Homo sapiens: one gene and its partners. The protein of the gene in region 3 purifies or fractionates together with the protein of the main gene of each other region. This does not show direct contact. Each region holds a gene or a part of one and is shown on either strand. Other genes may lie near its edges.

The links.
Region 1: the proteins of QPCT (region 3) and NUBP1 purify together in Homo sapiens (affinity purification with mass spectrometry; 3 studies listed by BioGRID and IntAct, with this or other methods). This does not show direct contact.
Region 2: the proteins of QPCT (region 3) and FRAS1 purify together in Homo sapiens (affinity purification with mass spectrometry; 3 studies listed by BioGRID and IntAct, with this or other methods). This does not show direct contact.
Region 4: the proteins of QPCT (region 3) and DHRS4 purify together in Homo sapiens (affinity purification with mass spectrometry; 3 studies listed by BioGRID and IntAct, with this or other methods). This does not show direct contact.

The regions. Positions count from the first base shown.
Region 1 is NC_000016.10:10,746,836-10,753,863, forward strand, and holds part of NUBP1 (cytosolic Fe-S cluster assembly factor NUBP1), read left to right. Parts: intron 1-307; coding exon 308-441; intron 442-5,774; coding exon 5,775-5,843; intron 5,844-7,028. UniProt on the Homo sapiens protein: Component of the cytosolic iron-sulfur (Fe/S) protein assembly (CIA) machinery. Required for maturation of extramitochondrial Fe-S proteins.
Region 2 is NC_000004.12:78,060,317-78,067,344, forward strand, and holds part of FRAS1 (extracellular matrix organizing protein FRAS1 isoform 1 precursor), read left to right. Parts: intron 1-5,668; coding exon 5,669-5,700; intron 5,701-7,028. UniProt on the Homo sapiens protein: Involved in extracellular matrix organization. Required for the regulation of epidermal-basement membrane adhesion responsible for proper organogenesis during embryonic development. Involved in brain organization and function.
Region 3 is NC_000002.12:37,354,629-37,361,656, reverse strand, and holds part of QPCT (glutaminyl-peptide cyclotransferase precursor), read right to left. Parts: intron 2,078-7,028; coding exon 1,799-2,077; intron 1-1,798. UniProt on the Homo sapiens protein: Responsible for the biosynthesis of pyroglutamyl peptides. Has a bias against acidic and tryptophan residues adjacent to the N-terminal glutaminyl residue and a lack of importance of chain length after the second residue.
Region 4 is NC_000014.9:23,956,760-23,963,787, reverse strand, and holds part of DHRS4 (dehydrogenase/reductase SDR family member 4), read right to left. Parts: intron 3,887-7,028; coding exon 3,785-3,886; intron 1-3,784. UniProt on the Homo sapiens protein: NADPH-dependent oxidoreductase which catalyzes the reduction of a variety of compounds bearing carbonyl groups including ketosteroids, alpha-dicarbonyl compounds, aldehydes, aromatic ketones and quinones.

The DNA of each region.
Region 1 (7,028 bases), on a different chromosome or scaffold from region 3:
TCTCTTCTGGAGCTGGGAATACAGCACTGAAAGCTTCAGACAGTTCCTACCTTTGTGGAGACTATGTTCTAGTTGGGGGAGACAAACGTGTAAACCAATAAATGAGACCCCTTCAAGTGTGATAATAGCCTTATTTTCTTCCTAGCACTTATTTCTACCATTGTCTGAGAGGTATTTCAGAGGATCGTTTTAAACAGCCCCAGGACTAGTACTAGGACTAGGACTTAGCTCTTTCTAGTTGACTGGAAGCGTGACATTCGAGGTTTGGTGTGGGACCTCATCCCCTGAACTTTGGTTTTCTTTGCAGCTATAGAGGAAATCAAAGAGAAAATGAAGACTGTAAAACACAAAATCTTGGTATTGTCTGGGAAAGGCGGTGTTGGGAAAAGCACATTCAGCGCCCACCTTGCCCATGGCCTAGCAGAGGATGAAAACACACAGGTGAGACCTCAGGAACCACTGGGAGATGCTCATTTTGTCTGAGGGTCGTGATGGCTACTAAATAACTGATTCCTAGGCCAGGCGCAGTGGTTCATGCCTGTAATCCCAGCACTTTGGGAGGCCAAGGCGGGCAGATCACTTGAGGCCAGGAGTTTGAGATCAGCCTGGCCAACATGGCAAAACCTTGTCTCTACTAAAAATACAAAATATTAGCTGGGCGTGGTAGCGCAGGCTTGTAATCCCAGCTTTTCGCGAGGATGAGCCATGAGAATCGCTTGAGCCCAGGAGGCAGAGGTTGCAGTGAGTCAAGATTGTACCAGTGTACTCCAGCCTGGGTGGCAGAATGAGACTGTCCAAGAAGAAAAAAAAATGATTCCTTATACTAAGTTGAATTGGCCTCTTTGGAATCTCAATCCGGCAGAGAGCAAAGAAATGCCCAGTAGTCAAATGAAGCATTTCACTGGATTCCCTAGCCAAGAAAATGGCTAGCAGATGTACATCTGTCCTTGCATGTGGATAGTTTATTACATTACGTTCACGCTTCTTTTTCCTCTTTATTAACCCCTTTTAGCTTTTCTCTAAGCCAGGGACCTGCAAACTATAGCCAGTGGGCCAAATCCAGCCCATCTCCTGCCTTATGGCCTTTGAACTAAGAATGTTCACATTTTTGAAATGTTTTTTGTTTGTTTGAGACAGGATCTCACTCTGTCACCCAGGCTGAAGTGCATTGCTATGATCAGGACTCATTGCAACCTCTACTTCCTGGGCTCATCAAGCTATCCTCCCACCTCAGCCTCTCAAGTACCTGGGACTACAGGTGCTTGCCACCATGCCCGGCTAATTTTTGGGTTTTTTGTAGAGATGAGGTTTTGCCATGTTGCCCAGGCTAGTCTTGAACTTCTGAACTCAAGGCGTCCCCCTGCCTCGGCCTCCCAAAGTGCTGAGATTATAGGCATGAGCCACCGTGCCTGGCCTAAAATTGCAATTTTTAAATTAGTACCTAAGTACCTACATATGATCCTTGATTTTGCCCACAAAGCCTAATAATATATTTGCTGTTGGCCCTTGTGGAAAATTTTTGCTGGCCCTTACACGAGTTTATTCATTTCCACCCATGCATACAGACGAGCATGAAAACTCAGATTACCCACTGCTGCCCTCTGGATCTCAACTTTAATAAAAGGGGTTGGTGGGTCGCTAAGAGCACACACTCTGGAGTCAGACAGCCCAAACTCAGGTCCCAGCTCCATCTACACCACTGCTGTGACCTTGGGCAAGTTACCAGGCTTACTCTGCCTCCGTTTTCTCATCTATAAAATGGGACTCCAAGGACTGAGTGAGATGGCACAGTAAAGCACTTAGCACGGGGCCCGACGAATAGTCAATGCTCAGTAAAGGTCTGTGATGGCCACCATTTTTATTACTTTATTTCACTCTCTGGATATGAAGGGATGATGATTACATCTGCCTTAGAGATGAGTTTGTAGCCTACCCAAGGTATAGTACTGGGCAGATTCAAAATACACTTGTTGGGCAGGGCATGGTGGCTTACACTGTAATCACAGCACTTTGGGAGGCTGAGGCAGGCGGATCACTTGAGGTCAGGAGTTTGAGACCAGCCTGGCCAACATGGTGAAACCCTGTCTCCACTAAAAAATACAAAAATTAGCTGGGCATGGTGGTACGTGCCTGTAGTCTTAGCTACTCGGGAGGCCGAGGCATGAGAATCGTTTGAACCCAGGAGGCGGAGGTCGCGGTGGGCCAAGATTGCCCTACTGCACTCCAGCCTGGGTGACAGACAAGACTCCATTTAAAAAAAAAAAAGGATATAGATAGATACACAGACACATACACACACACACACACACACACACACACACACACACACACACACGTTGATTCGTCATTCTGTGAGTCAGCGATCTCTTGCCATTTGAGGGTCAAATCTGTACTGGCCTAGTGGGCTGGCCAAGAAATCTGCTTTCTCAGATTGTCTGTATCGTTTAGAAGAATCTTTGCTTTTCGAAGCTGTCAGGAATATTCCTAAACAGCTCACTGGAGATGGGCTTTCATCTCACCACTTGCAAGTAACCACTTGTGAGTAGACAACTGTTTACATCCTTCACTTTCATGTAATTACGTTCTGAAGTCTTTGCTGCATGCCTGTCTAGACTTTGCAGTATACAGAAGGAAAGCACACCATTCAGTGTGGAAATATGGCTAGATCAGCTGTATTTTTTTATGCAGTGGTGGTTTAAAAAAAAAAGAAGTCAGCATTTAGGAAAGTGTGTTTTCCCCAGGCAGACCTACTCATGACAGTGACATCACTATCTGCAAAGTGTCAACACATGGAAAATGCTGAATATGTCTTGATTAAAGTCAAGCAGCACAGATTTCTCCCTGCCCTAAATCCAGCAGGGTGGTGGGACATGCCCTGACCTTTTTCTGCCTGCCATCTGGTGGAAGCTTGGCTCTAACTCTGTGCAAGACCATTCCATGTTAGCGCTTGAGGCAGGCAGGCGCCTGTCATCTCATTGGCACAAAGGGCCTTGGATCAAGAGAGAGCAGAATTAGAAAACACCCCTGACGAGTCACAGGCTGCCCAGGGAGTGTGTAAGTTGTGGTGAAGGCAGAAGGAGCCTCTGTAGCATAAGCCTGAGCCATGAGACAGCCAAGAGTCATACACTGTCTTCCACTGCAAAAGTCACCGACTCCCAGCCTGGGCTTCAAAGTGAGACCCCTGTCTCTACAAAACATAAAACATAAAAAAAGTTAGCCAGGTGTGGTGGTAAGCACCTGTAGTCCCAGCTACTCAGGAGACTGAGGTAGGAGGATCACTTGAGCCTGGGAAGTCAAGGCTGCAGTGAGCCGTGATTATGCCACTGCACTCCAGCCTGGGCAACAGAGTGAGACTCTACCTCAAAAACAATGAATAAATAACAAGTCACCAACTTCCATAAATTAAACTTTTTTTGTTTGTTTTTTTGAGACGGAGTCTCATTCTTTTGCCCAGGCTGGAGTGCAGTGGTGTGATCTCAGCTCACTGCAACCTCCACCTCCCGGGCTCAAGCAGTTCTGCCTCAGCCTCTGGAGTACCTGGGATTACAGGCGTGTGCCACCACACCCAGCTAATTTTTGTATTTTTAGTAGAGACAGGGTTTCACTATGTTTGCCAGGCTAGTCTCGAACTCCTGACCTCAGGTGATCCGCCTGCCTCAACCTCCCAAAGTTCTGAAATTATAGGCGTAAGCCACCACACCCAGCCACCATAAATTAAACATTTATGATCTTTGTGATCTGAAAGGCAAACTGTCATAACAAGGTCAGCACTAGGTGTTTCAGGACTGAGTGTGCGAGGCCCTCCTCTGGGTCCTGGGACTGCAGAGCTGAGAGGGGCCTTGATGACCCCGGAGCAGTTGTCTCACAGATCAGAAGCCCAGACAGCCAAGGCTTCGAAAGCAGAAGCAACTTGTGCAAGGACTAAAAGTTAGGACTAAATCCCTCTTCCCCTACCCTCCTCATCAGGGGCAGTTTGGGGTGCTGAGTAAAGGAGACGCTTTGGGTCCCGACAGCCTTGCAGCATCTCCACCTTCTGCAGCAAACGCGGCCTCTTCCCATCAGCTGCAAACACAGGCCCAGAGGTCCTGCTGGGAGGAACGCAGGCGCATTGCTCTCAGCTTTGCTTTTCTGGCCTAACCTAAGCAAAATTAAATGGACAGATTTTGGGGTAGTAATAAGATCAACAGGAAGTCTGAACAGACAGGACCCAGGGCCGTCCTGGCCATCTGGGTAGCAGGAGCTTGTCAACAGCCTCTCGGGCCTGCCACGGGAGTGAGAGAGTGCGCTGGATCTGCTTCTCATATCCTTACATCATTTCGCTCAAGATTCACTCCCCAAGGGAGTGAAATTCCTCTAAAGGGAATTGATTAAATTGTTCCCTAAAGGAAGGGCATGGAGACAGAGTCACTAGAAACCTGAGAGTATCGAGGAAAGTCTCTATCACAGTCATAGTGATAGTGTCATTTCCCCGTGGATCATTGACACATCAGTCCCAAGTATCAAGGTCCGGAGAGAGCAAGTCAGGTTTTCCGATGATGTCGCTCTGCTGTTCTCCCCGGATGGCTCCATAGAGGGCACCTGAGGCCAGTGCTGGTCTGTGGATGGCGTTTTCCCGTGCACAAGTTTGAGACAGCGCTGGGTGCTGAGGAAGTAGGAGGCTGGGTTTGTTGAGAGGATTGAAGAGGGTGGCAAGAAACTAATTCAGGGCAAGTTAAAAAGTGACGCGGAGGTGCAGCACTTTGGATCCGAGTCATTGCAGCTTTCAAGATGAATACTAGCCCTGTTCTCAGAAGGTTCCTGAAGGCCGTCTCAGACCTCCTGTATCAGAGGGGAAGGCTTGGGGTGGAATGGGGTCGCCTGAAGCTGCACCTGAGTCACAACTAAAGAGCTTTTCCAGGTTTCCATCTTACTTTAAGTTTCTGTTCTGTAAGTTTAGCCTAAACCATCATTCACCTTCAGGATCAAAGGAAAACAGGGCTTGGTCAGGGTTCAGCTAGAGGCTCCACTCTGGTCCTCCACAGCAGGCCCGTGGTGTACTGGAAAGAGCCCCAGTTGGGGCCGAAAGACCTCAGTTTATGTCCCAGCTCTGTTCCCTGCTTATTGAACTGGTCCCCTCTGAACCTCAGTTTCCTCCTCTGTAAACCAGAGATAATGATACTTACCTTCTAGGCACATGGCCGCCTCAGCCTCCCAAAGTGTTGGGATTACAGGCGTGAGCCACTGCACCCAGCCCCCAATATTTTTTAATACATTCATATTCTGCTTAAATAGTCTAGATTTGGCTTGTATCTGAGACTCCTGAACAAGATAGGATGAGTTTGAGAAAAATTTAAGATGCAGAGACCAAGGCTTGGTGAGGGGTGAGCAAAAGAGAGCTGTTTAGGGTGGCTCCAACACTGCCGTCTCTTGGCTGTTCCATCCATTCTGTCACACAAGCCAAACAGGCGCTAGGTCCCTTTCCCCGTCTCCTCCAACCAGGGCTCAGTAAACAAGGTCTGAGCCCGAGCCTCCAAGTGACCTGACAGCCAGGTCTGTAAGATCACCCTTGAGGAGCTCAGCCAGGCTGAGGGGTAGGGGAATGGGGGCATCAGTGTTTATGAACCTTGAGATCAGCGTTAGGACTCTCCCTCAGGAGAATCTGATGGCTCCAAGTTTAACCCAGTTTCTGTCTTCTCCCCTGTCCTTTTCCTCTAACCCCGCTCCCCTCCTAGTTGTGTGTGTCTGGAGTGTGTGCATTCAGTTATATAACCGCTTTGGTCTCTTCTTGTCCCCAGATTGCTCTTCTAGACATCGATATATGTGGGCCATCGATTCCCAAGATAATGGGATTGGAAGGAGAGCAGGTAATAGCCGGTTACAGAACTCAGGAAATTATTCTCTTAAGGCAAACTCTGTAGCACTGAACTGTCAAACCTCAACAAAGAGGCATGCGGAGCCCATAAATGTTTTTTTGTTGTTGTTTTGTTTTGTTGTTTTTGAGACAAGGTCTCACTCTTGTCGCCCGGGCTGGAGTGCAGTGGTGCAACCTCAGCTCACTGCAACCTCCACCTCCTGGGTTCAAGCGATTCTTGTGCTCAGCCTCCTGAGTAGCTGGGACTACAGTGGTGTGCCATCATGCCCAACTAATTTTTGTATTTTTGGTAGAGACCAGGTTTCACTACGTTGGCCAAGCTGGGCTCCACCTCCTGACCTCTAGTGATCACCTGCCTCAGCCTCCCAAAGTGCTAGGATTACAGGCGTGAGCCACCGCACCTGGCCTGTAAATGTTTATGTGGACATGAGGAGCTCATACATGCTCAGTAGTCCATCTGTCTACTTTTAACAACAACTGTGAGTCTTGGCGGGGGAGGGGCGGGATTGTATATGAAGTCTGTCTACACCATTGGAGAAGCATTGGTTTCGATGCCTCCTCAGAGGGGAAGGGAAACAGCCAGTGAAATGCAGAAGTAAGACACGGAAATTTAGCTCTGACTGGGAACATTAGACCAGGGCTTGCTATGGGTCTGTACCCTGGAAGCAAGGGAATATTTCTGCCCTTGTGGTCTCCCCTGGGGAACTGAGACTGCAGGGCGGGTGAGCGATGTGGGCTGGGGGCAGGGCTGTAGCAGTCTATGTAGTTGCTGGCCTCTTCTTGCTAGCAAGAAGCTCTCCAAGAGAGGATTCCCCCAAGGGCAGTGCATGGAAGCTGGGGCTGGGGGTGCTGGGATGTCCCGAGAGTCTCAAGATTGGTTCTTTCTTTAATTAGTGCCAGGAATGCATTAATCCTGTTTTGGGGATGCAGTGGTGAACAAGGTCCATGAAGACCCCTGTCTGGGTGGGAGAAGGCAGATGCTAGATAATGTGAAACCAACCCAGAGTGAGGGGATGGACAGTAGGGCAGAGTCAGAGGGGCTGAGGGGTGGTCAAAGGTGCCCTCACTGAGGGATAGCATTTGAGCAGAGGATGACAGGAGGGGAGAGCTGGGGGAAGGGCATTCTGGGCTAAGGGAGCAACTGCATGGGCCGCTGACACAAGGTGTCCTTGTGTCC
Region 2 (7,028 bases), on a different chromosome or scaffold from region 3:
TTTTTATTATCAGCCTAGAGAATAATTTTTAAAAATAGAAAAGAGACATTCACATGTATACTTCTTTTGATGGGATGTACCTTGTGACACCTTTGCTGACCAGCTTATGGCAGAATTTGTCGTTTTCTTCTCAGTGCACAGAGAGAACAATTGTGGTTGGTATGGGTTTGGTCTTCCTCACTTAGCTGTGTGCTTATTGAGGGGTTAGGATGGCTCCTATTAATTCTGATATCTTCAGTTCAGCTCCTAGTATACACTAAGTGCTCAAAAAATTGGTCAGATGAACAGTATTGCCAAATTATATTATTTTGAATTAAGCTTAACTGGTGGACTGGCCTCTGATTAGCTCACTAACCTTGAATGAACCATCTAACCTCTTTGCGCTATAGTTCTGTCATTTACTAAATGAGGTACATTACGTGATAGCTCTAAGATACTTTGGCTAATCATCAAACATAGAAGAAAAAGAGATCAGTATTTGCTGCATTATTAGTGGTCAATTGCAATTTTCTGGTTCTAAATTTTATTATTTTTATTATTTTTTTTTTGAGGCACAGTCTTGCTCTATCACCCAGGCTAGAGTGCAGTGGTGCAATCTCAGCTCATTGCTGCCTCTGCCCCCTGGCCTCAAGCGATTCTCATGTCTCACCCTCCTGAGTAGCTGGGATTACAGATGTGCGCCACCATGCCCAGCCAATTTTCACATTTTTAGTAGAGACAGAGTTTCACCATGTTGGCCAGGCTGGTCTTGAACTGCTGACCTCAAGTGAACTGCCTGCCTTGGCCTTTTAAAGTGCTAGGATTACAGGTGTGAGCCACTGTGCCTGGCCTCTAAATTTTATCAAAAGAAATATCAAAAGAAAAATAAATTTTTACAAGCAAATTATTGGCAGTGTTATTTTATATGGCCTTATATTGCTAAACTGGTAAAGTATTAATGCTATGACTTGAGAACTTAATAAAATCAAGAAGTCACAAAGAAGCTTCTAACATGGCTGCTTTCTGAATCACAGAAACTCTACCATGGCTTTTTCTGGAGAAATATCTTGAGTTCTGTTGACATATGGAAGTCCTGTGAAGTTACAGTAGATAAGACAGTTGCCTTGGGATAGGGAAACATCATTGAATTGGAGGTTAAGAGAATTGAGCTTTAGTCTGTGTCCCATCACTCTCCATGTGATTTTAGCCATTCCCACAAACGCTGAATCCCGGGTTTTTCCTATAAATGCTATTTAACAGGTTACATTGAAGAGGCTCATTTGATAGACAATATGTTTTATTTATGGGTGAGTTAGGGTAGTTGCACTCTGGGCTGCAGAGTTGTTTCACTGAGAGACTCTATGCTTGAAACTCAATAACTCAATGTTGGGAAGAGAAGAACTTGGCTGGAAAAAAGTAACCTAATTCTTTTATTCTGCAAGCCTTTATTGAGAGGTTCTGTGTCAGGTTATGTCCAGTAGGTGGGTACAGACATCAAAACCAAAGCCAAAAAAACCTCCTGCGCTCAAGGAGTTTGCATATCTAGAAATCATTAATGTCAGTTGAATAGCAGTAGGGATATGGGAACATTTGGTCCTTGGTGGGTTTCTCAGTATGGAAACGTTAGATGATGGTTGTAACTTTGCATCCTTTGGCTTTTGTAATTACCTGGCAATGGAAATAAAGAGGTGTTGTTGTGGACTCTTATTTTCATCAATTATATTTCCATTGCCCTCTGAAGATTGGATTCTGGGCATTACTCTCCTTATATAGTGTACATCCTTTAGTAAGGACCCAGCCATCCGTATTCACTGTTATGGACTTGGGTGGCAATGTCACCCAACTGTACTCACACAAGTAGTCATAAAATATTCTTTAACACATGGCTCAGAGTAGGGGAGGGGACTACCACATGTCAAAGTTGGAGCCTCATGCCAAATCTTACCGTAGTTCCAAAACAGTTGGCCCACTTTCATTTTAACTACTCTATTAATTGATCTAAATCCTAGTTGACAATAATCAGGACATGAGCTGTCCTGTCAGTTCAGAAAATGATTCTATTTTAAGTATTCCACAGTGCACACAGCCATATGCTGAATTATAACACAACATAAAGCCTGAACATTTAAATGCCAACTTGTGGCTGCTTGTTCCTAATGAGTCATGTTCTTGTGGTACCATGCTCTCCAAATCTTTTTGTATCTTAATGGTTGTATCTGCCACTATTTCTTTGAACTAATGGGTCTGACATTTTGTGGTGCTTGGATTTAACTTCTCTAATTTACTCAGTTTACCAACGGTTTCAGAATATATGCAAATTATATCTCAAAATTTCTCCAAAAATACTAGATTTTATACAGTCATCTCATAAAGGCGTATATTATAATGTGCAAAAGGGATTAAAAACAGACATTTACTTGTTTAAATTTTATGCAGTAACGTTTTTTCTGTGTGACCTGCAAGAAATGAGCCAGCCACACAGTAAAAGAGCAGCTCAGGTCTCAGGATCTGGGCTTCCTTCTTGACACTATAAAATTACTTCACCCTGCAAAACTTTATGCTCTTTCTCACAGGTTGTGAGGTGTTAGAACTTAAATTACCTGGCATCTCAGCTGCATTCTGTGCCTTGAAATTGGCATTGTTCATAGTTAGAGAACTACTCCTGTTGTCTCCGGTTTTTCCTCAGTTTTCCTTTGAGGGAGGCTCATTTCTTCTTCTAGATCAGCACTCTCTCACAGAATTCACCTTGAGCTGGAATTTTCTTTAAAGTTCCCTGCCATAAATATAAACGTCAAATAGACCTGCAATCATTCTTGTACTCCTGAAGAAAAAAAAATAATGAGTCGAGAGATGAATTTTGTTTTCCATATTATGTGAACTGACGGATTAGTGAAAAGACCTCCACTCTGGCTTTCAACCAGAAGCTACACCCAGTACCCATGTCAACAAACCCCTCAACTTCATCTGCTGGTGGGTGTGTGAGAGAAATATGCTTCCTTTGGATGCTGCATCTGGTATTGGGTGATGATAAATGTTTGATAGAACTGGGCATCACACTGGAATGCTTTTTTTCTCAAGAGAGTAGAAATGAGGTTTTGGAAGCTGTGTTAATGGAGGCTCATTCATGCAGCTGCCTTCCAGGTAGAACTGTTCTGTTTTAGGAAAGCTCTCAGAGGGCAAAGCTTATTTCTTTTGGAATTGTACAATACAAAGCAACCCAAATTGAATTAATTCCTTTTCCTAATGATATAATTTTTCAGCAGCTCTACACCATTTTGGCTTGAGTCTCCAGCAGATGCATGGCTTGCCCAGGTATAGATGTGGTGCCACACTCAGTGCTACTTTATTTTTTTCATACTGCAGTGAGTTTATCATGGCTATCTAAACTTCCAAAAATAGGTTTTGATATGGGTACTCAGATACTTCTTAAGGTGCTTGATTTCCTTTGGAGCTTTGAAAAGAAATTGACTTTGGAAGGTAATGCTGTGGAGAGCAATAAAATTATTTGAGGATAGTCTTATTTTAAAGATTAAATTTTGTTTGTGTTTTTTCTAAAAGTTAAGTTTTGTTTAATCTAAAGTTTAAATTTTGTTAAATTGTACCTAAGTGATGATGATCTTTATTCTAAATTTTCTAAACACCAGAAATAATTAAATATGTCCATATAAGTAATTTAGAAAGTGAATTGTGTTCATATGTATTTATTTGAGATATATAGAATTATTTTAGTACACACATCACACACATACATATGTACACATATATATATTTCCTTTCTTATAACATACCATAGACTGAACTACTAAGTCTTGGAACAAGATTTCTTAAGGAAAAAGTAGTCAATTAAGAAGAATTTTCCTTCAAGGTTTTATCTCAAGTTATTCTTATTAGAACTTAAAGAATAATAATAAAAATAAATAAATAAATAAAATAAAAAAATAGGGAGTGTCTATAAAATCATTCATTTATAGACACTCCCTATTCCTTTCTTTCATATGTATAGAAATAAATTCCTTTTTTCATATGTACAGAAATTTTAATAAATATTAATGCCATGGCTAGAAACTATTTTAAAGTAAAATAATAAGTTTGTGTAAAATATAAACTCAAAAATGACATATTTATATTAATTATCCTATGTCTGCAGAGGAAGAAATACAAACCATTAAAAGTTGGAAATGTCATTAGGAGAAAGGCACAAGGGTGTCATAAATTTATAATTTTTGCTTATACATATGCCTTGTACTTAGCTAATGTGATGCCTTCATATTCTGGGTGAATTATATTAAAACACCAATAAAATTGTTGTATACCAAGAAAAAAAAAAAGAATATCAGGGACATAAAAATTATTTCAATAAATTTGCCCACAGAGATCTTTGATTCAAACCTAAGTGTAAATAGTCATCTCAGTTTTTTTAAAGATTGTTCTTAATTCCATTACTGGAGGAGAAGGTAGACCAATTCTTTCCTGAGAAGTTAATATTATTGGGACTTCATAAATGATCCATTAGAGGTAAGCACTGTGGTAAAATAATGTCCTTCTCTCTTTAGAAACCAACTGTGTGGAGCATTGTTAAGATATGCTTCACCTTGGTGTGTATATACTGTTCAAATGTGTTTTGCAGACTCAGTTTCTGAGAGAGTAGGTGACAGCACACTGCCCATCTCTTTCTAAGTTAAATCAAGACCTGTTGTGCAGCTCAAAAATTGGTTGGGAATGTGTCTATATTTTTTTTAAGTTAAGATTTCAGTTTTATAGTGTATATATATATATATATATATATATACATACACACACACACACTAAATACTACATATGCTATTTATACTATATATTATATATATACTATATATAGTATATAGTGGGTATATATGTATATATATGTGTATATATGTGTATATACTATATATGTACTATATATGGTATATAGTATATAGTGGGTATACATGTGTATATATATGTATATACTATATATGTAATAGTATATATGTAATGGTATATATAGTGTATATATTCTCTCTATATGTAGTACACACACACATATATATAATGTAGTGGGGTAAATACAACATTTCAACATCCTTAGAAAGGAAATACACAAGAATAAATTCACAAATGGAGGATGTAGGCACAAAATGCTAGGAGCTCAGAGGAGCATAATCTGGTGGGCAGAAGTTTCACAAAGGAGATGGGATCAAGTTCAAAGAGCTTGACTAGACAAAGTACATCTCCTGTAGAAAATGAAAATGAGCAAAGGCATTGAGACATGTAAATATATTACAGGATTCTAAGTTGGCCTCTTGGGTTGGACTGGAGGCTTAGTGTAAGCAAACAGTGGCAGGGAAGCCTGGATAAGTAAATGGGACTGGATTATGGAGGCTTTGCTGACTTATCACCAAGAAAAATATTTACTGTATTTATAGCATGTCGTTATAAACACATTTATCTTAAAATTCAAGTCATAAGTTTTAATGATGCTTTTCCTCATGTGTGTCCAAGGAATGTTGTTTTGGTGTATGGGGTTATTTCCCCAGGGGAAGAATGCTGAAGCTTTTAAGATTTTGGAAGAAGCTCATTTTCCTGGTTATGATGCATATAGATGCAGTTTTAGCAGCAAGCTTGCTGGGGCAGTGCCTATTGGTTTATTATGCATCCCTTTTAATTCTTGTTTTGTTTTTCCCCACAGGTGCTTGTGTCTATCAGGATTCCTTGTTGGCGGTAGGTCATTCTTTACATACTTGGTTTCTGTCATTTGAATGTAAAATGCTTGATTGAAGTTCCTGAGTGAGTGAGTTGACCCTATCATTGTAGAATATGTTTATTTTTCTTCAACGTTTGACAATTAGCCCTCATTCGGGCACAATGATGCTCAATTATTTAATACCTTTTCCAGAGTGAATTAGTTCTATTCAGATACTCAGGTATTGGAAGAGAAATTCAAACACTCAACACACGATTTACATTCTGTGGCTGTTCTTTGTGTTCTTTTAATCAGAGAGAAAATTAGATCCCATCCTTTTGTCAGATACAAACTGAAACACAATTTTTTAACTTCTGGTTGCATTTGCTTCCCACTTTGAACCCTTCTCCAAAAAAAGTATGATTATTAAATTAAGTAGAATAGGAAGGATTTCTGTTGTTACTTTGAATTATAAACTTAAGTTTTGGTGAACAGCAAAGAAATTAACATTTATTTCTGAACTCTTGCCATATAGGGTAAAATTGATTTTGAATTTAATGTCAGAATGACTTGGGGGAAAGGCTGATGTAAGTCTCATGCATTTCTTTTCATTACTAATGCACTATGGTGCATAACAGTGTGTTAAAGCCTTATTGAAAAGACTGTCTACACTCCATCAACTCTAATAAATGGTGTGACAAATCATTCTTCACCATGTTTTTATTTTGGTTTAATAAATGCTATAATAAAACTGAACTGAGATGGTTGGAAAGAATTTGCTCATTTACATCACAACCTGCTATTGACATGTGTGATATTGATAAGTCATCCTGGATTATCCTTGTGGTATTGAAATAGCTGAGGAATATCTGAAGTATCTTAGAGTCTAGATAACTGTAGATATTCACCATAATATCCTTGAATCTGCACTTTATATACTGTAGTTACTGCTGGAGAAGTTTATTTTTTAAATATTTTTCTATCAAAAATTAGGAAAAAGCCATTTTTATTGTATTTGTCATTCCATATCCTGCCCTGTTTATTCTTTAATATATTTTAGGAATCATTTGCTCTAAAATATATTATCACTTTTGGGGAGCTACAGTAGATATTTAGACAAGTCAGTTATCCGTGCTAATAAAAGAGAATTATTTATTGTGTAGAGTACTTCATAACTTTTCCATATATTTTCATAAGTATTCATATGTCTGATACTTATAATAGACCAATGAAATAGGCAGGCCATGTATCATTCCATACTCTTTCCCCTTTTAATGGAAAAGATGAGAGAGAGAGATGAAGAGATTTGCTAGAGGTAATTCACCATTAGTGGTGGACCAGAACAAGACATCCTGTCTTCTTCTGT
Region 3 (7,028 bases):
TTCACTGTGCAGTCAGCAAGGTTGGTTCTGCTCCAGGTGTCTCATCCTTCTGCTGGGACTGGCAGGCTAGCCAGGGCATGCCATTCTCATGGTTATGGCAAAGACACGGAAGAGCAAGCCCAATGGCACAAGCACACTTCCAGCCCCTGTTTGTGTCACCTCTACTAACATCCCATTGGCTAAGGCAAGTCAAATAATGAAGTCCAGAGTGAAGGGATGAGGAAGTACAACTGGCTACAGTGGGAGGGCACAGCAAAGTTACCAGGCAAAGGATGTGGATGTGTAATGACAGTCCTATTACTGGAGAGAAGTGGAGCTATGAAGAGTTGCGAATAATCCAGTCTACTTATCAAGCACTCTTTCAGGTCACTTTCCACCACCGTCTACCCAATCCATGACAGCTGAAGAACTTAACTTCTCAATACCAATTTAGTTAAAACATATAACTGGAAGAATAAATCTGATACTCTCAAAGTCTGCATTCAAAAACAGCCTCTTAAAAAAAATCCCCCACCTCACCATTTATCTCTAACAGAAAGGATTACTATGAGAATATATATGTTGATTCAAATTTTTTTAATGATGACCCCAATCCAATAACTCATTCAGACCTTTCTATTAATATTTCTGGTCACCAAAAGCAGATATGAGCTATATGGGAAAAAGCAAAGGAGTTCACTCAGAGAAAATACATCCATTACACAGAACAATGTCTTCAAGTCATACTTCATTTTGTGTCCTTATACTAGAAGTGCAAATATGAAAAATTAGACTTTTGCATCAGCTTTTGAACTCCTTCATCCAATTGCTGGGGAAGGAAACTAGTTAAAAGCAGGGCAAAGCATGGGACAAAGGGATTGTAGAAGGCTCAGAAAACAAAACAAACCAAAAAAAAGAAGTGAAAAGGAGACTGAGAGGGTATAAACAAGTCTTGCTTTCTTCAATTTCAGCATATCCAGCAAAAATAGAACCAAATATCTCTACTACTTCCATTACAAGATAAACTTTTTACTTCTTTACCCCCACTGTATCAAAGGCTGGACCCTTCATAAAGCTCTGAGCGGGGAACAAAGCATTTGTTGCCTGAGAACAAAGTTTTTTGTTTTTGCTTTGTTGTGTTTACTTGGTTATGAGTGATATCAGAACAAAATATCTTCATCTAGTTTAGCACTTTTTTCCAATATACCCTTAAGAACACCAAGACTGAAATAACATCTGAGAGTCCCAGAAGTATTTTGAGCTGAGAGCATAACAAAAGCTCTGCTATGCTACATAAAATGGAGCTGAGATTCACAGATAATAACAATAATGCATTTCTGCTTCATGCTTTTCATCTTGATAGGTCTGAATTACCCACTCTCCACTTCAGAACCACTTTGCTGCAACTCCCTCCTCCAACCCAAGAGCCACCATCTCTCAGATCAGAAGGTTGTGATGTTTCATGGCCATAGAAAGAAGAAGAAATAAACATAGTTCATTATAAAACACAATTCTCATACTATACCTGAAACAAACTTCCTCCTTCATTTTTCACAAAGAAATGTTGCATTTAATTTAATGTGCATTCAAGGCTGATAAATCAGGTGCCAATTAATGAATGCATTGTCACGTATCTTAGGTTTATTGCCCATGGTTGATATTCCCAATCATGCAATCTTACAATTAATGTTCATAATAAAAATGTACCAAAAGTCTCCATTTCTAAATGGCCTTCTCATTCCTCCAAGGATTCTAGAATTCACTCTGAGTTACTGTTAATGTACTTTATCCTAGGAATCAATAAGCAGAAAACAGATACCTTTAAGGAAAGGAGTTTCTTGTCTAAGGCACGAGCAAGTTCCAACATCATTGCACATGGCACGGCTGAATCAGTGGCTCCTACAAACACTCTGTTGTTCCAGTGGGAAAAATACTTGGAGTCATAGTGGCAGGCGAGGACCAAATGTCGTTTAGCAGTGGGATTGAGGGTGCTGATGATATTTGAGAAAGACCGGTACCCATAGGGTGTCTGACTCAAGAAGGTGTCTATTTCCAAGACCCAGTCAGCCTGAAGCCTCTGAATTCGCTGCATGATGTGCTGATCAAAACAAAAAAACAAAAAATTTAGATCTAAAGAAATGGCTTTCATTTGTTAACTGTGATTCTGAAATTTTAAGTAGTGCCTTTCAAATTAAAATTGGAATACACACTTAATGAATTCATAGCAATATTATTGCAATTAATAATTGCTTTGTATTGTTATTGTAATTAATAGCATTTGTCCTGTTTAAAGGAGAAGCTAATCCTCTTGCCTCTCCCTTAAACTTCCCCTTACTAATCAATCTCAACCAATTGTTAATATTAACCAGTGTTAATAGTTTGATGCAGATCTTTCGACATATCTTCTCCTTGCTTATGCAAACCTACAGTAGCATACAAACACATATATTTGGCAGAGGGGCATATGTTTTTGTAGGAAAAGAATCCTACTTTTTATATTACTCTCCCCTTGCTTTTCTCCTTTAACAATATATTATGGACATGTCTACAAGTCAGGAGACAGAGATGCAGTTCGGTAATAGTAACGTACACTTTTAATATTTCTAGGAGGCTACAAAGGCATATTTAAAAAATTAAGTAAACCAGCAACCTACAGGTCTCTATCTCTAAGCTCTTCAAGGACAAGAACTGCAAATGGTAGCTCTTTCTGTCCCAAGTGCATAACATGTGTCCAAGTCCAGCAAATGCTTTACATGTAATGAACACTAATAAAAGATACAGATGCTCACCTGCTAAGGATAACGTAGAAAGCTCCCATAGCTAGGGGGTGGTTCAGGTTATTTCAGACCTCCGCTCACTGTAAGAATTAATAAGCAACCCTGAACCATAATAACATATCAAGCAGCTTTCCCTCTGCACCCAAGGCAGGTTGAGACGCACTGCAAATGCTGGCAAATATAAAAGAGAATCTCTTTCCCCATCTCTGCTGGCCACCTTGAGCCTTATAAGGCAACACAGTGACTGACAGAAGAAAGCAACAGGTGCAGAAAGTAGCATCACTTCAGGAACTAGAAGTATTTTTTTAAAGAACATATTATAGACTTCACGATGTGAGAAGTTATAGGTGAGTTCATTGCTGATTCATTTGCCTTTTCCCATCCCTATTTTATCTTGGCTTCACTTTCCTATGTTCCTTGGTTTTTTGTTTGTTTGTTTGTTTTGTTTTGTTTTGTTTTGTTGTTTAACAGGGCTTCACTCAGTCACCCAGGCTGAAGTGCAATGGTGCAATCTCAGCTCACTGCAACCTCCGCCTCCTCGGTTCAAGCAATTCTCCTGCCTCAACATCCTGAGTAGCTGGAATAACAGACACATGCCACCATGCCTGACTAACTTTTGTGGGTTTTTTTGTTTTGTTTTTTTGGTTTTTTGTAGAGATGGAGTTTTGCCATATTGCCGGGGCTGGTCTCAAACTCCTGGGCTCAAGTGATCCATCCGCCTCGGCCTCCCAAAGAGCTGGCATTACAGGTGTGAACCACCATGCCCAGGCTGTTTCTTTTTTTTTTTTTTTTCAAGTATCATATACATCATTGTAAATTGCCTTAAATTATTTTTATAAAAAGTCAAACGACAAACTAACATCAAAATAACTGACAATTTGTCCTTCAATTAACATCTAACCAAAAACCAACATTTCAGATCTAACAGTTCAGATCTAGACAGTTTAGATCTGGGATGGACCTTAAAATGAAAAATGAATAACTGGAAATGAATGTGAGGGCTTTTATTTTTTTTTTCCTCCTAAGAAATACAGGATTTTCTATCCTAGCCAAGTCCCATGTGGCCTGTGCTCACTAATGCGACATGACACGTAGGCAAGAGACTCAAAACAACTGCGGCAGGAAGCTTCCAAGGAAAGGGGAATTTAAATAGTGGGAGGACACTGATCCTACAGTCGGTCCTGCAAAAGCCAACTAAACAAATGATTCCCCAGCTAGAGACTCCTTGCTTTTTATAGTGGGTGGACTTTGTCCTAAATAGCATTGTGCATGCAGTACCTTAACTTTTCTATTGCAAATTTACATGCTGTCTTATCACATCATCAAAAGAAATGTTTATAACCTTTTTTGAAATCAGCATTCATAACTCTCCACAATTTGTAGTACTGTGCTTTGCTCACAGTAGGCTATCAGTAAATATGGGTTCATTCTAACAGTAAATATGAATTGATTTAATGAGAATATATAAAACTATACGATACAAAGCATTAATAGTTTGAATAGAGAGAAATCACTATGCACCTAACATGAGTTTTTCTGCAGACTATGAAAATGAGTTATCCCTAGACTGTAAAAAAAAAAAAAATTCCACAAAATGGGTCATTTAAAAAAAAAAAAAGCATATACTCCAGAACATCTGGTATCCAGATGATAAAATGCTCCATAAAATGGCTTCTTCAACACCAATTGCAGATTGCAAGCTCACAAAATGAATTGGAATTTTAAAAAATATATCTGTTAGCAATACTCAGAAGTCACACACAAACTTATTTCTCAACTTGTTACTAGGTCTTGATCATAATTTCTGATGACCTTGTTGACACTAAAATCCATAAGAGAATCAGCATATATCCTCAAAAGAGTTTTTCCTGAAGCAACTTTTTTTTTTTTTTTTTGAGACGGAGTCTCACTCTGTCGCCAGGCTGGAGTGCAGTGGCACAATCTTGGCTCACTGCAACCTCCAACTCCCTGGTTCAAGCAAATTCTCCTGCCTTAGCCTCCCGAAAAGCTGGGACCACAGGCACATGCCACCACGCCTAGCTAATTTTTGTATTTTTGGTAGAGACAAAGTTTCACCATGTTGGCCGGGATGGTCTCGATCTCCTGACCTTGTGATCTGCCTGCCTCAGCCTCCCAAAGTGCTGGGAATACAGGCATGAGCCACCGCACCCAGCCCCGCAACTTTTTTGTTCAGTGTAACTATTTTTTGTTTATCTTAGCAGCTAAGATAAATCGTCTTTATAAACGATCAAATTGGCTGCATAATCTAATTAGTTCACCAATATCCCTTGTTTTGTTTTTGGCTTTCAGACTTAGTCTACAAGTCCCCACCAGAAGTCTCTAGGGGAACTCCCCAAACGACCACTACTATCATTCAAATACCCGTAAGCAGGGAGTGCGTGGCTGTGGCAGGGACTCTAAAGCAGCTGCCTTCCCCAATACCAAAGCAGCAAAGGGCTGGACCCTCCAGGAGTGCCGAAAGGCAATTTAGAATATAGATCACACTTTGGGTTGCTATACATCTATGTTTTAAAATGGAGAGGAGAGAAAAAGGGAGAAAGAGAAAAAGTGAGAGAGATGGAGATAGGGATAAAGCAGAGATAGATGGAGACTGAGTAGAGAAAGAAAAAAAATACAAAGATGAAGACATGAGCACGAGAGAGAGGCTGTTACAAGATAGTCTACTTCCAAAGAGTGGTAGGGGGATTTATTCTAGGTTAACACTAGTGAATGATCCTGGGTTTCATTTAATTAAACATAAATTCTAGTTTCCAGGTTCTGAGAAACAATGACATCAGTAGACCAGATTTGCTTGGAGGAAGCCGATTTTCCAGTATTTGTGTTAAGTCTGCAAACACATCGTCGTCAGGATGCGGACATCTGCCACCTGAAGACTCGGGTACCTCTTTACTCTTGAGTGCACCATATATGAGTCCCTCGGGCTCCTCCTCTTAGGGGGCTGGACTGAGGGTGCACCTGGGATCTATGTACCTGATGACATTCAGTTTCGGTGGCTCAGATGCACTGTGCACCTGTGGGGGATTTTACCCCCTGAAGTTTCTAGTTTGCCTCTTTTAGACAAAGGATATTGCTTGCCCATTTGTGAGACTTTATCATCCTAATTTTTTAATTTTTTTATTTCTATCTTATAAATCAATGAAATAGCCCCAAATGTATTATCTTCAAATTATTTGTTTTACAAATAACTTATCTCCTCAAAATAAAAATATCCTAATAATCCAATAGGCAGCTTTGGGGTCATTGATCAGAGACCAGGAAAACGCATAATGTGGGACAGGGTTCCCCCAAAATATTCTCTTTCTGTAAAAGAGAACCCATAGTAATGCACATCTTTACTGGTAACTACAAAAGTTAATTCACAAACCAATTTTATATCAAGTTTACCCTTTTTTAATATTTGAGGATCTTCTCTAGTTACAACCTTGAAACTCTAAATTATAAAACATCTCATCTAGTGTTCAAAAAGGCCTCAGGAGAAAAAAAAAAGGTTCAATCATTTTTGTTTCAATTCAGTTCTACATGAAAGGATCTAATCTTAGTCAAATTAAGGCCATTAGTGTAGTTCCCTCATAATTACTCTGTCATGTACCTCACTTTCAAAATGAGAATTCCTTTGTCTTCCACAGCTTAGAAGATAGGTCTCTAAAAATTAATGGTAATTTTCTTCTCAAAAAATTCTAAAATGGAATCTAAGTGAGATATCTAACATAGCCATCAGCCAGCCCATGCATAGGCAGCCCAGCAGTAGTTCCCAACACATTCTAAAATACTGTCCATAAATATCTCATTTGCCTCCACCCCCATATGATAGTGGAGAATGTTACTGAAACTTCAGTAACACTTTTAAATGAATATGTATCTTTTTAACTACAACAATATCTATGTATATTATTTATCCTATATACTGTATTCTGTTGAAGCTAAAGATCAACTAGCAAAGTTTATTGTGTTCATGGATTTCCAGAGCCTGCAGGCAAAGAACCTCAGGCCTGAAGTATGCATATCATTTCTGGTTATATACAGCGCTCTGGGCAAATGGTATGGGAAAAAAAAAAGGTTGAGTTGAATGGGAAGAGTAAGCATCACAGACCTAGATTTTTTTCTAACAAGGAACTGAGGCTTTTGGAAAATGCCAATTAAATGCCCTGGCCTTCTTTTAAGAAAATGCTTGAGAGATAAGGCCCAGGGAATGTTGTTAAAGTGAATGGTATGTGCCTCACTCTCCAACTTGGGCTTGAGAAGATCGAGAGC
Region 4 (7,028 bases), on a different chromosome or scaffold from region 3:
ATGTTGAAAGCTGAGGCAGGCTGAAAGTTAGACCATGTGCACCAGTTAGCCAAATTGTGAATGCAAAGGAAAAATTCTTGAAGGAAATTAAAAGTGCTACTTCTCTGAACATATAAATGATAAGAAAGCAAAAGAGGTTTATTGTTAATATGGAGAGAAAGTTCTTATGTTCTGGACAGAAGATCAAACTAGCCACAACATTCCCTTAAGCCAAAGCCTAATCAGTAAAAGGCCCTAATTTTTAATTCTTTGAAGGCTGAGAGAGGTGAAGAAGCTCCGGAAAAGTTGGAAGCTAGCAGTGGTTGGTTCATGAGGTTTAAGAAGCCACCTCTGTAACATAAAAGTGCAAGATGAAGCAGCGAGTGCTGATGTAGAAGCTGCAGCCAGTTATCCAGAAGATCTAGCTAAGATCATTGATGAAGGTGGCTACAGCAAACAACAGATTTTCAATGTAGATGAAACAACCTTCTAGTGGAAGAAGATGCCATGTAGGGCTTTAATAGCTAGAGAGGAGAAGTCAATGCCTGGCTTCAAAACTTCAAAGGACAGGCTTATTCTCTTGTTAGGGGCTAATGCAGCCAGTGACTTTAAGTTGAAGCCAATGCTCATTTACCATTCTGAAAATTCTAGGGCCCTCAGATTTACGCTAAATCTACTCTGCCTGTGCTCTGCAAATGGAACAACAAAGCCTGAATAACAGCACATCTGTTTATAGCATGGTTTACTGAATATTTTAAGCTCACCGTTGATAGCTACTGCTCAGAAAAAGATTCCTTTCAAACTGTTACTGCTCATTGACAATGCACCTGGTCACTCAAAAGCTCTGATGGAGATGTACAAGGAGATTAATGTTGTTTTCATGCCTGCTAACACAACATCCATTCTGCAGCCCATGGATCGGGGGTAATTCTGACTTCCAAGACTTATTATTTAAGAAATACATTTTGTAAGGCTATAGCTGCCATGGATAGTGATTCCTCTGATGGATCTCGGCAAAGTTAACTGAAAACCTTCTGTAAAGGATGCACCATTTTAGATGCCATTAAGAATATTTGTGATTCATGGGAGGAGGTCAAAATATCTACATTAACAGGAGTCTGGAAGAAGTTGATTCCAACCCTCATGGATGACGTGGAAGGGTTCAAGACTGCATCAGAGGAAGGAACTGCAGATGTGGTGGAAATAGCAAGAGAACTAGAAGCGGAGCTGGAAGATGGGACTGAATTGCTACAATCTCACGATAAAATGTAGATGGCTGAGGAGCTGGTTCTTACGGATAAGCAAAGAAAGTGGTTTCTTGGGATGGAATCTATTTCTGGTGAAGATGCCATGAATATTGTTGAAATCACAACACGGGATTCAGAATATTATAGGTACTTAGTAGAGTAAGCAGTGGTAGAGTTTGATAGGATTGACTCCAATTTTGAAAGAAGTTCTACTGTGGGTAAATGCTATCAAACAGGATTGCATGCTACAGAGAAATCTCTTGTGAAAGGAAGAGTCAACTGATGTGGCAAACTTCACTGCTGTCTTATTTGAAAAAACTGCCACAGCCACCCCAGCCTTCAGCAACACCACCCTAAGTCAGCCACCATCAATGTTGAGGCAAGATCCTCCACCAGCAAAAAGATTACAAGTTGTAAAGGCTCAGATGATTGTCAGCATTTTTTTAGCAATAAAGTATTTTAAAATTAAGATACGTATATATATTTTAAAACATAATGCTATTGCTCAGTTAATAGACTTCCATTAGATGATCATTATAATGTAAACCTAACTTTTATATGCACTGGGAAACCAAAAAATTCATGTGACTCACTTTATTATAATATTCACTTTATTGTGTGGTGGCCTGGAACCAGACCCACAATATCTCTGAGGCGTGCCTGTACTTAGTTTAAAACTGACTTTCATATGGTCTCTATTCAGACTGTTCATGAATGATGCTCCTCTATTTTAAAGACTATCAGAATCTGGCTGTGTGTGGTGGCTCATGCCTGCAATCCCAATATTTTGGGGGGCTGAGGTGTGGGGATCAGTTGAGGCCAGGAATTTGAGACCAGCCTGAGCAACACAGTGAAACCGCATCTCAATACAAAAAATTAGCCAGGCATGATGGCACATGCCTGTAGTCCCAGGTACTTGGGAGGCTGAGGCACAAGAATCGCTTGAACCTGGGAGGCTGAGGTTGCAGTGAGCTGAGATCACACCACAGCCCTCTAGCCTCAATGACACAGCGAGGGAAAAAAAAAAAAAAAGGAAAAAAGACAGAGCAAGAGTCTGTCTAAAAAAAGAAAGAAAGAAGCCAAACTTAAATGGTTAGCAGCAAATCTCTGGGTAGTTTTGAAGAAAAGACGGTTTAAGAAAGAGAAGTTATTTTGATGATAGTTCCTAAGAAGGAAGGTTTTGTTGTCATTGTTGTTGTTGTTGTTTTTAATATAGAGAAAAGGTCTCGCTGTGTTGCCCAGCCTTCTCTCAAACTAGCTCAAACTAGAATCAAAAACTAGCTCACTGAAGAACATTTTGGCAGTTTGGTCTTTATGTGTATGAAACACTGGTAAATAAATCATAGTATTTTGGCAACCTGATACTTTAGTGTTGAGAAATTTTGATGACATCTGATATAGTTGGTAAGTTTGTCCCCTCTAAGTCCCATGTTGAAATGTGATCACCAGTGTTCCAGGTGGGGCCTGGTGTGAGGTGTTTGGGTCATGAGGGTGGATCCCTTATGAATGGCTTGGTGCCCTCCCTGTGGCAGTGAGTGAGTTCTCACTCTATTACTTCATGCCAGAACTAGTTGTTTAAAAGAGACTGGTATCTCTCTCTTGCTTCCTGTCTTGCCATGTGACACACTTGCTCCCTTTTTCCTTCTGCCATGATTGTAAGCTTCCTGAGGCCTCATCAGAAGCAGATACTGGCACCATGCTTCTTGTACAGTCTGCAGTATCGTAAGCCAAAACAAACTTCTTTTCTTTATAAATTGCCCAGCTCAGATATTCCTTTATAGCAATGCAAAACAGACTAATACAACATCAGTGTAAAACGCAGAACCATGGGAGATCATAAAAATTAGCATTTCCCAATCATGTGGGAATATTAACCTTAATAAACAAAGACAAATATTTTAATTAAAGCTTTGTAATTAAAGAGTGTGTGTGAAATATATTACGAATATAATGTAATTATACACTTTCACATAAAACCCAATATTCTACCACTTGAATTTAGACATCTGGATCTCAGATTTTCTTGACATTGCAGTTAAGAAGAAAATAATATAGGTTTTTATTTTATTTTTTTAAAGGATGTATGTTATAAAGTGGCAACTGGTCATTTCACCAGAATTAGTATTTTAAATAAGGAGCAGCATTTAATATTTCCCAACTCGTAAAAAATAATTACTTTTTGTCAGCTGAAAAGGGGACAGGTGGGTGTGTAAATTAAGTGTTGTAGTTGTTGGCATATTAGCTGCCTACGTCTCTGTTGGAAATCAACAAGGCAGAAGAGCATGCCAGGGAAAAAGCCTGGGGAGAGGAGCAGACTGTGGCTAGTGAAGAGCAGATAGAAGCAGAGAGAACTAGGAGTAGCAGAAACGAATGAGAAGGGCAGGGATAGAGCCACCCCCACCCGCCCTTTGCAAGGTGTGCTCCAGGTGTGTGGCACGTGGCAAAGAGTCCTCACATTTACACTGCCCTTGAGAAATGCATTCTAAAAGCAGATGGAGTTTGTGCTGAATGTGTTCCAAGGCGCCCCCCCCGGCCCCCCTGCTTTAATCCCCTCTCACCTTGTCCCACACCTCCTCAGTGACATCCATTATGCTTCCAAAGAAAGGGTTGACAGCAGCATTGGAGACTAGGATATCGATACCTCCATGAAGCTTCACAGCCTAGAGAGAGGGGTAAGTTCTGGACCAGGGCTGCAGTAAGTAAGGGAGGTGCATTTACCCATGTTGATAAAAACTTCCTTCTGGGCAAGGAGCTGTGGCTCATGCCTGTAATCATGGCACTTTGGGAGGCCAAGGTGGGAGGCTCACTTGAGCTGAGGAGTTTGAGAGAAGCCTGGGCCATGCAGCGAGACCTTATCTTTATATTAAAAACAACAACAACAATGACAACAAAATCTTCCTACTTAGGAACTATCGTCAAAATAACTTCTATTTCTTAAAACATCTTTTTTGAAAACTACCCTAAGATCTGCCGCTAACCATTTAAGGTTGGCTTCTTTCTTTTTTAGACGGAGTCTTGCTCTGTCATCCAGACTGGAGCACAGTGGCATGTTCTCAGCTCACTGCAGCCTTGACCTACTGGGTTCAAGCCATCCTCTTGGCTCAGCCCCCCAAGTAGTTGGGACTACAAGTGCGTGCCACCACACCCGGGCAATTTTTGTATTTTTTATAGAGACAGGGTCTTGCCATGTTGCCCAGGCTGGTCTGGAACTCCTGGGCTCAAGCCATCCACCTGCCTCAGTATCCTAAAGTGTTACAGGCGCGACCCACCAGGAAGTTGGCCCTATTTCTTTTGCAGTGTTTTCTTCCCACCTCCTATTCTTCCAAGGCTGTCTCTGACGCTCTTTTCTTTACACTTCCCCTTTGGGAAGCTCCTTCATTCTCATGATTTCAAGTCTCACCCCAAAATCTATTTCCAGACCCCTCCTCTTCCTTTCACACTGAGTTCCACCCACATTTCTCCAAGTGCTTACTGTCCAGTTCTCCTTGAATAAGTTACCATTATCTCAAAGTCAATCTGTCCACACTTACCTGAATGGAAAAACTGGCTTAAATAGAGCTGTAGAAAGTTACCCTGGAGGGGCCTTTGAGATCATCTATTCCAGTGTCCTTAAGGTGGAGATGATGAAATAGGTTCAGAGAATTTTCTCAAGATCTTATAGTTCAGTAGTGGCACACTGGGGCTAGGTAAGAACAGGAGGCCTGCTTATTCTGTGTTTGGGAGGGGTGAAGTGATGTTTTCAGGGCACAAAGCTAGTTAGTGGTGGAAGAACTGAGGTCAGTCTCCCACTTTGTAGCACAGAGCTAATTCATAAGAGCCCTCTGAAAGTGAGTTGGGGTCATCAGGAAACTGGTTGCCCAGGAGAGCCGTGATGGGAGAAGATACCAGCCTGAATTTAAAGCAATTCCATATTTGGTTATGATGTCATTTTCCCTGTCTCTGTCTCTCTCTTTTGACCTGGAGGCATGAAAGATTCAAGGCAGAAACTGAAATTTAAATTGAGAAGGCGAAGAAAGGCAACATCTCACCTCCTTAATAAGTTATAAGTAGATAGTGAGGCCTGTGCTAGAGTAATGAATGGCCAAGCAGAATCTGCCAACAAGGGTTTTCAGTACAAAGCCACCCTGAAACCAGACTTTCCGTTTGCCCGGAACTGGCAATTTTGATGCCTTGGGCAAGTTGCAGTACACGGGCCCTCGGTCAACTTTGTGCTCCGGATTTGGCACACAGAGGGGTGTTACTAACAATGTACACCATCTGCTAGCTTCCCGTTTTAACTAATTATTCTTGTTAACTAGGTGCTAAGCTCAGTTGTTTCTAGACAGTTGAAGGAATGCTGGGCTGTCAATGTGTAAATCTAACAAAATTTACAGTCACATAATCTTTTAAAACCAGTATTAATACTTTCTTGCACCCTTTAAATTTTGGTATCCTGGCACAAAGCCAAGTCACCTGCCTTGGCTCTGTGTAAGTCTCACCAATGGACTTGTTACTAGGGAGGTGCAGAGTAAGTTAATAAGTGATGTGCGCCGTGCTCAGTACACATGTGTTTGGGCTGGGAGGAGACAATGGATTGCTCTAGAATCACCTGGAGACATTTTCTACTCTGCTGTATACCCCATACTCCTCTCCTTCCAGGTCTGTCAGCACAGAGATGGGAGGAGGCTGGGTTTTGATTGAACAGAGACAGCAAACCATAAAAGATGAATGAGGCTGGGTGTGGTGGCTCACACCTATAATCCTAGCACTTTGGTAGGCCCAGTGGGGAGGACCACTTGAGGCCAGGAGTTCAAAACAGCCTGGGAAATACAGCCCCAACTCTACAAAAAATTTAAAAAATGAACTGGTGTGGTGGTGCATGCCTATAGTTTTAGCCACTTGGGAGGCTGAGGTGGGAGGATTGCTTGAGTTCAGGACTTCGAGGTTACAGTGAGCTATGATCATGTCACTGCACTGCAGCCTGGGCAACAGAAGGAGGCCCTGTCTCTGGAAAAAAAAAAAAAAGGAAAGTCTTCTAAGTCTTATTCTAAATTGTGTGATCACTACACCAAAGCGGTTAGGAGCTGTTTGTTCTGTGTTCTGATAGTTATACATTTTTAAGAAAAAATATAATCAAGGAGATAGGCAGCTACTCTGGTTTCCACTTACAACACCAGTGAGAAGCTTCGTGGTGTCCAGATGAGGAGGCCACTGGGTAGTATCCATTCTCAGGAAAGTGGCTTTTCTCATTGCAGGGTAACATGTGGCAACTGGCAGAAGACATTTCAAATTGCTGACAAGTATTCTATCATTCTCCTCTCTGACAATGGTCATACAAACTACTTGAGAGTCATTTTTGACTTCTCTATTTCCCACTTTTTGACATGGGGTTGGAAAATCTTGGTTCGTTTCCACTGAATGTCTCTTGGGCACATCTATTCCAGTCCCACCGCCACTGCTCTAAACCTGGAGGACAGCAACAGCTTCCTCACTGATGCCCTGGATTCGGTGTCTCCTCTGTATATCCTTCCTACCAGAGCCAGATTAGCTTTCCTAATAACCATCTTTCTCTTGCTCAAAACCTCACATGGCTTCTTATTTGCTACAAGGGTGTGTAAACATATCCTTTTAAGAGGCCATATCCTTTTAAGGTCCTTAACGTATCCTTTTAAGAAGCTATGGCCGGGCACAGTGGCTCACGCCTGTAATCCCAGCACATTGGGAGGCCGAGGGGGTGGATCACCTGAGGTCAGGAGTTCAAGACCAGCCTGGCCAACATGGTGAAACCCTGTCTCTACCAAAAATACAAAAATTAGCTGGACG